Linked DNA regions of Homo sapiens. The protein of the gene in region 3 purifies or fractionates together with the protein of the main gene of each other region. This does not show direct contact. Each region holds a gene or a part of one and is shown on either strand. Other genes may lie near its edges.

Region 1 (3,681 bases), on a different chromosome or scaffold from region 3:
GTTGAATGTAGAAAGTGAACAGAAGAAACTGGAAAGGAAATAAGAACACTGGTTTTAGAAACTGCTTTCTAGGCCAGGCGCAGTGGCTCATGCCTGTAATCCCAGCACTCTGGGATCACCTCACGTCGGGAGAAAGCCCGTCTCTACTAAAACAAAAATACAAAATTAGCCAGGCGTGGTGGCGCATGCCTATAATCCCAGCTACTTGGGAGGCTGAGGCAGGAGAATCGCTTGAACCTGGGAGGCGGAGGTTGTGGTGAGCCAAGATCGTGCCATTGCACTCCAGCCTTGGCAACAAGAGTGAACTTCGTTTCAAAAAAAAAAAAAAACAAATAAATAAATAAAAAAGAAAATGCTTTCTGAGTGCAGAAAATTGCCCTTTACTCTAACTTGAGGTAACATCTACCACAACATTATCTGAGAAAGCTGAAGCAAAAGGCACCAAACTATTTCCAAATGCAAAAAATTGCATGCAAACAGACTGTCCCCTGAAATGGATGTAGCACGCCTGTGGAACGTAGAACACCACACACCACTCCACATACAAAGGTACGTATTTGGCATTAGAAACCTTTTATTGAGACAAGGTAAACAGTGGGCTGAAAATATTACAGGCTGAAGGAAGGCTGAGGAAACCAGTATGAAGGCAGCTCAAATGATGAACTAAATATATTCCAAAGGTACTATTTATACTTAAGGCAGTTTTAAAAGTGAGGTCTTAACCAAAAAGCCTTTACATGGCATTCAAAACAAAAACAAAAACAAAAAAAACACGGGGGGGGGGGGGTCACTTAAATCTCTTGGATTGACTAAAAGAGCTAAATTATGTACCCAAAATCTGTACAGCAGGGGCCTGTTTTCAGCAGGAAAGCCTATGTACAAGTAAGAACCTCTTACTCTTGTAACATTGTCCTGTTTTGTTTTGTCTTATAAGAATATATAACTCCTATCCTCACAGAGTTAGTCCATAAGGCCTCAGTGACCTCACAGAAATATGGAGTTAACCTCTACTACAGAACTATTTACACTGCACTGTAAATACACATATGTGTGTCCACCCTCACAGCTAAGCTGTCAATGCCTTGAGTGAAGGGGTTACAGCTCATTCGTTTTGCATCTACAGTGACAATGAATAGGCACTCAATACATACTTTTTTTTGCATGAATGATAAATGAAATGATTTTACATTACCACCACTATTTACATTAACATTCCTACCATTAGCCGTCTCCAAAATAAAAACACAAAATTGCTGCCACATGTTCAGCAGTTTTCACAATACAGTGTGTCTGGACTTTTTAATGTAAACAAACATGCTTGATTTACCAATTTTCAGAGCAAGGACACAAACTTAGCATTCTTCTAGGAATGGAAAACTTGCCAGGAAGTTACTTCATTCTTTTTCTCTTTTTCAAAAGTGCATCTCGTAGTGCCAACTGTAAGATAAAAAAGTATTGAAACATGATAACTCTTGGGTACCCTATTATACGAATTTGGTTACATGAAAGTTTACTAAAAAGGAATCACCAAGTCAATACACCATCCTGAAAAACTATAAATGATAAAATATTCCAAAACAGATCACATCTGAATCGAGGATGGGGCATATTACTGCTAGGAAATATGCAAAACTCTTGACTGCTGTTCCCAACTCATGGAGGCATAAGCTCAAAACAGGAGCAGCTATGGAATGCAGAGACTACTATTTATTATCCCTGTCTCCAGGGATAATAAATAATACTTATTTGGTCTATGTGGCTCTTAATATTTTGGAGTTGTGGATGGAATACATTGTCTAAATTAAAAGTAACAGGAAAACAGATTTTTCTTCATAATCAATCACCTTTCCCAATATCACATATATTCCACTAAATATGGCATGTATGGATCACTCAAAGATTTTATAATGGCATTCAGCACTTGTGTAGATTTATGATAACTCTATCAATATAAAATCTGAAACAAAGAAAAGTGATACCTTACTAAGAAAATGTTCTAAGTATATGCTAACACTAACCCTTTATAATGGCTCAAACATGAAGATATTAACTCAGAAATTGAAGCCCTGACAATTGTAGCTTATGGCAAAATATTTATTCTAGTTAATACAGGCTCTAATTTTTAACTTGTTTAATTATTTTGTGTTGGAAGTATGTAAAGTGAACATGAAGAATGAAAGCAGTGAATTGTATATCATAATGAGACTCAGTCTAGGCTTTCATCTCCTGGAGTTTGTCTCTAACCAGAGGCTGGGTTCTTCAAGATCCCCAGGGTAGAACTGGAAGGTGAAGAATTTAACATCTAGAGAAAAAGAAGACTGAAGGATCAGTGTCTGACGCAAACCTACAAAAGCCCTTATAAAGTTTTACATGTCAAAAGAAAGCAAACATAGTATTAAAGATGATCAAAAATAAACCAAAATTAAAGTTAACCAAGACCAATGTATACATCTTAAGTTTGTGATGGATACTATTCCATTAATTCCCAAGTACTATTCTTTGTCCTAGAAACTTTTAAAAATCTCTAGCTTTTATTTAATTTTTATTTTAAAATTCTAGCTTAAATTTTAACAAGATACACCTAAAACAGTTTCGGGGTAGAAGTTACCTGGCTCTACATACAAATGTTCAAACTTTTTGGATTTTATGATTTCCAGTTGACTCTTTGCCTTTAACTCACACCTGGGTCTTGGTATGTCTTTGCAGAAAAGCAGAAGAGCTGGGATACTTAAGGCAGAACAAAAATCTGTAAGTTCATTTCAACTTAATTTGGCTAAGGAGGTATTTTCCAGATTCATCTAATTCTATCTTATTTTCCTCATCTGCAAAATTGGTTTAATCACAGTAACTGCACATACTGTTGTATACTGATTAAACAAGTTAATAAATGGAAAGCCCTGGAATAGTGAAGTCTCATGCTAAGAACTAAATGTGTTAGCTAATGTTGGTTATGGGAATTTACTTCCACTCATTAAGCTTTGTAGCAAAGCACAGCCTACTCTCACACATATTTCAGTTCCTTCCCCTTCAAATGCCACCAATTAAAGAAAAGGAACAGGTATATCCCCCTTTTCTTCTTTTATCTTTCTACAGGCTTTACTGCAAGATCCTCCTCTCCTTCCCTATCGTATGCTTTACTTCCCTCTTCTAGTCTCATCCCAGTCACCTCTTCATATTCTAACAATTTACAGTAAGACCTCATGTACACTTTCAAGCCAGGTAAGATTCCTTTATTTAAGACACTGAAATATCACCAAAGGGTAGGGGGGTGTGTGAAGTGTGATGCTCCTTTCTCACAGGGCCCTTGGGGTCACAGGGCAGTTTTGGGGATGCTCTGTAACTGTTGTGTCCAATAGGGTAGCCACTAACTACATGTGACTACTGAGCATTTGAAATGTGGCTAGTCCAAATTGAGATGTGCTGCAGTGTTAACGACATGCTGATTTCAATTAGCTCAGAAACAAAAATGTACAATATTTCACTCATAATTTTTATATGTTGAACTACATGTTGAAACAATACTATTTTAGATATACTGGGTTAAATAAGATATATTGTTACAATTTCCTCTTTTTTTACTTGTTTATTTTTAAGTGATATATGTGGTTCATATTATATTTCTATTGAACAGTACTGGTCTAAAGGGGAGAACAGAGAAAATCAGGAACTTAAAAGTTTATG
Region 2 (3,750 bases), on a different chromosome or scaffold from region 3:
GTAGAGACAGGGTCTCACTATGTTGCCCAGGCTGGAATCAAACTCCTGGCTTCAAGCGATCCTCCTGCCTCAGCCTTCCAAAGCATGGGGATTACAGGTGTGAACCACCGTGCCCGGCCTCCACCATTTTTTACAGTCAGGACATGAAATAGGAAAGGATGCTCTGTTTTCTTCCAGATGGGCCCTAGGTTGAACTTTCTGGTCCCTCTTCTCCACATGATGTCCTGCCTGGGCTCCCTGGCTCCTCTGCCATAGCTGGATCGTTAGTTCACCTTATGAAGCAACAAAAAGAGAGACCCACTGTGGCCTCTGCTACAGGCCAAGCAGAGGGCACAACCCAGGAGGAATGAAGTCAGTGTTCTGCTCGCTACCTGACTCCTGCGACAGAATCAACTGGCCCCTCAACAGGGGCTGAATCTGGAACAAAGCAGACGTCCCTTTATCCTACAATTTCTCAAACTTCTCATATCGAGCCTCTGTTTTCAGGAGGTTAAAACAAATTAATCATCAGTGAGAAGGCCAAAAAGACCCCACACAGGGACCCCAGAAAAACAAATGTCATCCAGCTGTGAACCATGAGGGCCCAATGACAGCTGACACGGCAGCCTGGACTGCGGTAAACAGAATGGCGAGACCAAACCTAAATGTTTCCCCTTGGAAAAATTAGCAGCAGCCACCTACAGAAGAATATTCCCCTCCATGCATCCAGGGGCCTGCTGACCTCTGCCCAGCCTTTCTACCTCATCTGTAACATTCAATCACATAGCCAGCCATCCTATGCACGCTGAGAGGTGACAGCGCCTCTGGGAATCAGATTAGAGAACACAATCGTTTGTGACCCTGCATCCCTGGGCCTGGCAGTTTCCTGACTGATCAGACCCTGGGCCCCTCAAGGCAGGGGCGCGAGCCACCACCACCGCCCTCCTCCGTGCAGTGCTGAATACATGCTACTGAAGGCTAAGGTATCGTCCTGCTGTGACGGCCTTCCCATTTTATAATTCAGTAGCGCACGAGGGCCATGGCTGCCTATAGCAAGAATGTGTGTGGTTTGATATTCACAGTTCCACTGTCCCAGAAAGTTTCCAGTTTGCTAGCTTGTAGCCATTTCCCCTATCTAGGTGCACTGGCCGTGATTTTACCCCACTCCATCTGGGGCGCGCCCGGCGCAGACAGGACTGCAGAGAAAAGGGACAGGGAGGGGACCTAGTCAGTCCCTACTATAACTGTTTCTCAAGACATTCTCCCCATGCATTTATTTGCTCTCCCGGGGAAAGAGCGAAGTGTGGGATGACTCATAGTGGCTAGATCGTTCCTCTAACTCCTCCCTTCTTTTGTGTGTGGTTTAAAAAAAAGAAAAACACACACGCAGCCCATAGCCACAACATCAACAAGACCAGAAGCCCCGCAGAGTTCGCAGGAGGTGGGCAGTGGCTGCGCCACCTGCTCGGCTTCCCCAAACTCCGAGCCCACGCCGGGAAGCGGCGGCTCGGTGGCCCCGGGCGCCCGGGCCGGTGGCCCCGCGCTCGCGCCGCTCCGCTCCGCAGCCGAGCGTGGAGTAGCAGGCGCTCGCGGCGCGGCGGGGGAGCCGCCGCGGAACCCAGGGCAGGCGGCCAAGCGGCCCGGCTGTGTCCAGCCATCGCCTGCGCCGCGGCCAGCTGGCGGCCAGGCGCGGGGCCCCGCGGCCAGATGGCCGCTCCGGGGACGCGCCGCAGGCGCCGGGTGCGCCCGGGCCGAGGGAGCGCCGGCGCGGCTGTGCAGGCAGGGGCTGGGGGCGGCGACCTCTGCCCGGGCGGAGAAGCTCAGGGGCCCGAGCGCGGCGGGCGGGGCGCGCAGCCTCCACGCCGCGCCCTTTGTCCCATGTGCGGCTCACACAGGGGCCCGCGTCCCCCGTGACCCCGGCCCGGGCCGCAGCTCAGGTCCCGGAACCAACTCCTCCAGCAGCGCCGCTCTGGCCCGGGCCGCCGTGCGGGGCTCGGGACACGGCGGCAGCGGGGAACCCGCGCCCGCTCCGCGTCCAACTCCGCTCGCCCCGCGGCGCGCTCGGCCCTGCAGGGGCCGCCCCGCGCGTTACCTGCAAGGAGCCTGAGCCCCGGCCGCATCTCCCTCCCGGGTGCGGAAACTCTGGCGGCTCCAGGCACCCGCCCGGACCTGGCAGGGGGAGGGGCCGCCCGCCGCGCACCCGACCCCCCCCGCGCCGCGCCTCCCGCAGCTCCCCACGCGCGCGGGCGCCCCCCAGCACCAGTCTCGGCCCGCCCCCTCCGCCCGACCATTGGCTGCTGCTCCCGTCACTTTCAGGCCACAGCCAAGTCCCTCCTCAGCTCATTGGCGGACGCGCCGGTGACGTCAGGCCAGGGGGCGCTAGTCGGCGGCGAAGGAGGCGCAGGGACAGACGGACCCGGCGGGAGAGGAGGAAGCCGGGTTGTGGGCGCGGAGCTGAGGCGGAGGCGGGGCCGGGGCGGGAAGGGGCGGCCCCAGCTGGGTCGGGCGAGGCTGGCTGCGGGAAACCGAGTGAGCCCTCGCTTTTCCTCCGGGGTCCGCGCGCGGGACCCTATTTCTGGCCTGTCTCGCGCTTCGCCTGCGCGGTGGTCTCCACGCTGGGACTGCGGCGTCCTCGCAGAACAGCCAGAACTCCACTTCTTCCTGTCCGGGAGGAGTTGTTTAAAACATGCGTATCTCCACCTTCTGCTTCTTAGAACAGAACTGACTGAAGCCGTGTTCTTCCCGCCGAGACCATGCCGCCCCATCGACCCTGCTGCGGCCAGAGCCACCCAGGGCGGGCCCACTCACCGCAGGCTCGGGCCACTTGGTTCCAAACCTCCACTCCCATCCAGGGGCCCGGCACACCCACCACACTCCCACTCTCAGAGGTCTTTGCCGCCTGCTTCAGGAGAAAAGAGAAACTTCCACTTTCCACCGGCAAAACTGCACACCTGCTCCCTCCATCACCGAGCCCCCCCCCCCACCTTCTGTTTTTCCAGTATCGCAGAATCCGATCCGTTGCTCCCTCTGGACTGGAATCCGTATCCTCGGCATTTCATCATTCCAAGATTCTCTACTCCACGTACCCTTGCTGCCACCCTCTTCTACTTTCCATCGCTGAAGTTGGTGAAAGAGGCGCCTGCCCCCAGTTTTGTGGTCTCTCAACTCCACGTGTTCGTTTTCACACTCGGTGAAATTGCCTTTTTAATTGTCGCAAGTAGCATCCACATCACTAAAGTCAAAGGACACTCTCCTTTCTCGTGTTAACTGATCTGAGCAAAATTCCTTCTTTCTCCTTAAAACACGTCTTCCTGTGGCGGGGGTGCTCCACTTTCCTGTCTGTCCCCAGTCTTGGCGTGCTTGTCTACTCTGGGTGACCACCAAATAACAGAGTTTTCAAGGTCTCAGACCTTTCCTCTTACTCCACAATTTTTCCCTGAATGATTTAACCTGCTGTCAACATTTAAATCAATATATCCCAAATTTGCAACTCTAATCTTTGCTCCTCTGAGCTCCAAATCCGTTTATCTAGCTTCCTATTCAGCTACTCCTGGTAACAAGCACCTCAAATGGAACCCATCCAAAACTGAATGCGTCCTTTCCCTGCTTGCTTTCAACTCCCTGTCTCCCTGTGATAGTGAAGACACCACTATCCAGTGTTTCCCAAACTCTGCCTTCACCTCGGCATCTAACAAATCGCCAAGATTCTACTTCCTAAATAACTCTGAAGTCTGTCCACTTCCTACCATTTCCAGTATTACGTATCATAAT
Region 3 (3,750 bases):
CAGGGTGCCATCCCACATAAAGGTTTTGGAGTAAATTTAAAGCCTGGTTCCAGCCACTGGAAGCTGCATGAAGGAAAGCAAGTTATTGAGAGCCTCAGGTTTTTTCTTTTGCTTTGAGACAGGGTCTCACTCTGATTGCCTAAGCTGGAGCGCAGTGGCATGATTACAGAGCTCACTGCAGCCTCGACCTCCTGGGCTCAGGTGATTCTCCCACCTCAGCACCCCGAGTAGCTGGGACTACCAGGACGCACCACCACACCCAGCTAATTTTTTGTACTTTTAGTAAAGACAGGGTTTCGCCATGTTAACCAGCCTGGTCTCGAACTCCTGAGACTCAAGCAATCCACCTGCCTCAGCTTCCCAAAGTCCTGGGATTACAGGCGTGAGCTACTGCACCAACCTAGTTTATTCTTTAAAAAGGATATTAAACAAAATAGTATATGTAAAGCATCTAAAACAGTACTTGGCACTCACACAGTAATAACTCAATATAAGAGGTGGACTCACTAGAGTTTTCCTTACATTTGTATTTATAAGTACACACATGTGAAGATTCAAATCCCAGCTTCATCAACTTACAATCTGTGTAACCTGGGCAAGTTATCTAACTCTCTATGCCTCAATTTGCTCATGTGTAAAATAGAAATAATGTGCCATTCTGAGATACGGTCCCCTCCTGCCAGTGACCACCCCAAACACAGCTGTTGGAAACATGACACATAAAAGTTGTAAACTCCCATTCATTGTAACACTCTAAGAAGGAGACTCATCTGAGGTTTTATTTCTATAGAATTTAGGGTGCCTTGTGAAATAAACATTCAACTACTCTAAAACCCTGGAAACAATTAGTATAAAAGTAATTTATGATGAGGTAATTAGCTGTCATATCTGAATTTAAGGAATCTTTTAGAAACAGCTTTTCAAAAAGTTTGTTTAGGCCAGGCGCAGTGGCTCACACCTGTAATCCCAACACTTTGGGAGGCTGAGGCGGGTGGATCACCTGAAGTCAGCAGTTTGAGACCAGCCTGGCCAACATGGCAAAACCCCATCTCTACTAAAAATAGAAAAATTAGCTGGGTGTGATGGCACAGGCCCATAGTCCCAGCTACTCAGGAGGCTGAGGCTGGAGAATCGCTTGAACCCGGGAAGCAGAGGTTGCAGTGAGCCAAGATTGCACCATTGCACTCCAGCCTAGGTGACAGAGTGAGACTTTGTCTAAAAAAAAAAAAAAAGTTTGTTTAAATTACATGTTGTCTCTTTACTAAACATGTGTCTTGAACTAGACTAGAATCAACTTGTGGGCAAGAACAGTGTTTTACACTTCAATACTTCTTTTTGTTTGTTTTTGAGATGGAGTTTCGCTCTGGTTGCACAGGCTGGAGTGCAGTGGCATGATCTCAGCTCACTGCAACCTCTGCCTCCCGGGTTCAAGTGATTCTCATGCCTCAGCTTTCCCAAGTAGCTGGGATTACAGGTGCCCGCCACCACGCCCAGCTAATTTTTTGTATTTTTAGTAGAGAGAGGGTTTCACCAAGTTGGCCAGGCTGGTCTCAAAAGTCCTAACCTCAAGTGATCCTCCCGCCTTGGCCTCCCAAAGTGCTGGGATTACAGGCATGAGCCACTGCGCCCAGCCTGCTGGGAACATTTTAAGGTTCAATTAATGCATGCTGCTTAGGTAACTATGATTAAAATGTATACGTTAGCATAGAACTGATAATAATTGAGCTTTAGTTACAGCATTTCCTTTCTCCTAACATCTCCCTTACCCAGAAACAACTTAAAACACTTCAAATTTTTTGAGTTAGAGATCACAAACATCAAGGTATTTGACTCTTATTTTCCATCACTTGCTACTTGAGGGGGTCACACTAACCAATTCTGGTTACATACTTTCCTGCTATGGACTCTAGAAGAAAAACTGCAAAGAAACAGAAAACTAACCTTCTTAAACATATATAAGGAATCAAGGGTTTCCTTAAACTATTACCTGAGAGTCCTATTTTTGCCTTCTGTATAGTAAGCATGTCATTCTACTCACTATTCTGCCGGAATACATCTTCACATTTCAAACTGGATTACTTTCCAAATACTGGATTACGTTCATGCAGTAAAAACAAGAATAGTGCATCTATTGAATATTTTTGCATTTGCTTATTGCAATACTAGTTAAAACACCAGTTTATAATTTTTTTATACATTCAGTTGTTCAACAAATGATTCTTTTAATCTGCCTGAAGTTTCAAGTCAACACGTCACTGGAGAAAATGTATGAAACTGTAGCACTAATTTCTGAAACGAAGGATTGAAGTTCCTCTTTCCAACTTCTTTCAGACCATCACTACTCCACATGTTCCTGCTCTTGTCCTGGAATTAGCCACCGAATACTCTCAGTTCGAATGGTAGCATACATAATAAAACTAATTAAAAAGAATAAGGAAAATACAAGCAACCAGTCCACACTTTTTATCAAAGTGCTGGGAAGAGGGCCTATTTGGTCGGCTTGAGTTACCACCACATTCTTCTTGGCTTCTATACCTGAAAGAAAAATCACTGGTTTCAAATCAGGCAGAAAAAGCACCCACCACAGATTTTTCTCAAGTATTATGTATGGTATGCAAAATGACATGCAGTCCTAAAATAAGCATTGCCACTAGTATATATATAAATATATGGGATGGATTTCACTTGCCTATCAGTGTAATTTGTAAGTTGCCTTTCTCCCCACTGCATCAAAGGATCAGGAACCCATTCAGCTGTTCACAACTAAAACACTAGAATTTCTGTGAACTCATCAGAAGTTTCTTAGTCAATGTGTTTATAAGAGTTGTATTTTGGTGTCTTTTGAGACCAAAGTTCAGTAAGTAACTAGTAAAACTCCTCTCAGGTGTCTACAGAATGTTTTCACAGGTTAAGTAATGCTAAATTCGAAATGCTTTTTTTTTTTTCTGTGATGAAGTCCTGCTCTGTCTCCCAGGCTGGAGTGCAGTGGTGCGATCTCAGCTCACTGCAACCTCCGCCTCCTGGGTTCGAGCGATTCTCTTGCCTCACCCTCCCAAGTAGCTGGGATTACAGACACACACCGCCATGCCTGGCTAATTTTTTTGTATTTTTAGTAGAGACGAGGTTTCACCATGTTGGCCAGGCTGGTCTCGAACTCCAGACCTCAGTTGATCTGCCCACCTCAGCCTCCCAAAGTGTTGGGATCACAGGTGTGAGCCACCGCACCCAGCCCCAAAATGCTTTTAATAATTTACTGAAAGAACTGTTATAACAACAAGCCACCAACGGAAACAGGGATTACCAAAGATGCTCTGACTCCCAGATTTGTGTTCTAGGTTTTCTTAGAGCACTGAATAAAATGGCTCCCTCTCCACACATCAATCGAAATGACAATCAGGGATCCATGACAAGACTTGGACTAGCTAACCACCTTGTAATATCCTACTTTTACTCCTATCAGCCAACTCAGCTCTTTTTTCTTTAGTGTTAGCTAAAATGATTATATGCAATTTAATATATATGCAATGTGTGTTATAATTTTTATTTATTTCCAGTGAGCATACTTTGGGAAGAGTGGGATGCTCACAATTGAGACAGTGAGGCTTTAGAGGAATGAACTTTTCCAATGGAGGTAATTTTTTCAATTTACAATGCTTTACAATGTTTTACAAACAATAAAAAATAAGGCCATATGTTTTGGCAAATATTAAGGAACTAAGATAGCATCTACAAATGGATTAATAAATGGAA

The links.
Region 1: the proteins of TXNDC15 (region 3) and SDAD1 purify together in Homo sapiens (affinity purification with mass spectrometry; 2 studies listed by BioGRID and IntAct, with this or other methods). This does not show direct contact.
Region 2: the proteins of TXNDC15 (region 3) and TMTC4 purify together in Homo sapiens (affinity purification with mass spectrometry; 3 studies listed by BioGRID and IntAct, with this or other methods). This does not show direct contact.

What each region holds. Positions count from the first base shown.
Region 1 is NC_000004.12:75,949,361-75,953,041, forward strand, and holds the end of SDAD1 (protein SDA1 homolog), read right to left. Parts: intron 1,438-3,681; coding exon 1,390-1,437; 3' UTR 555-1,389; downstream 1-554.
Region 2 is NC_000013.11:100,672,673-100,676,422, forward strand, and holds the start of TMTC4 (protein O-mannosyl-transferase TMTC4), read right to left. Parts: upstream 2,124-3,750; 5' UTR 2,072-2,123; intron 1-2,071. UniProt on the Homo sapiens protein: Transfers mannosyl residues to the hydroxyl group of serine or threonine residues.
Region 3 is NC_000005.10:134,898,274-134,902,023, reverse strand, and holds the end of TXNDC15 (thioredoxin domain-containing protein 15 isoform 1 precursor), read right to left. Parts: intron 2,536-3,750; coding exon 2,339-2,535; 3' UTR 389-2,338; downstream 1-388. UniProt on the Homo sapiens protein: Acts as a positive regulator of ciliary hedgehog signaling. Involved in ciliogenesis.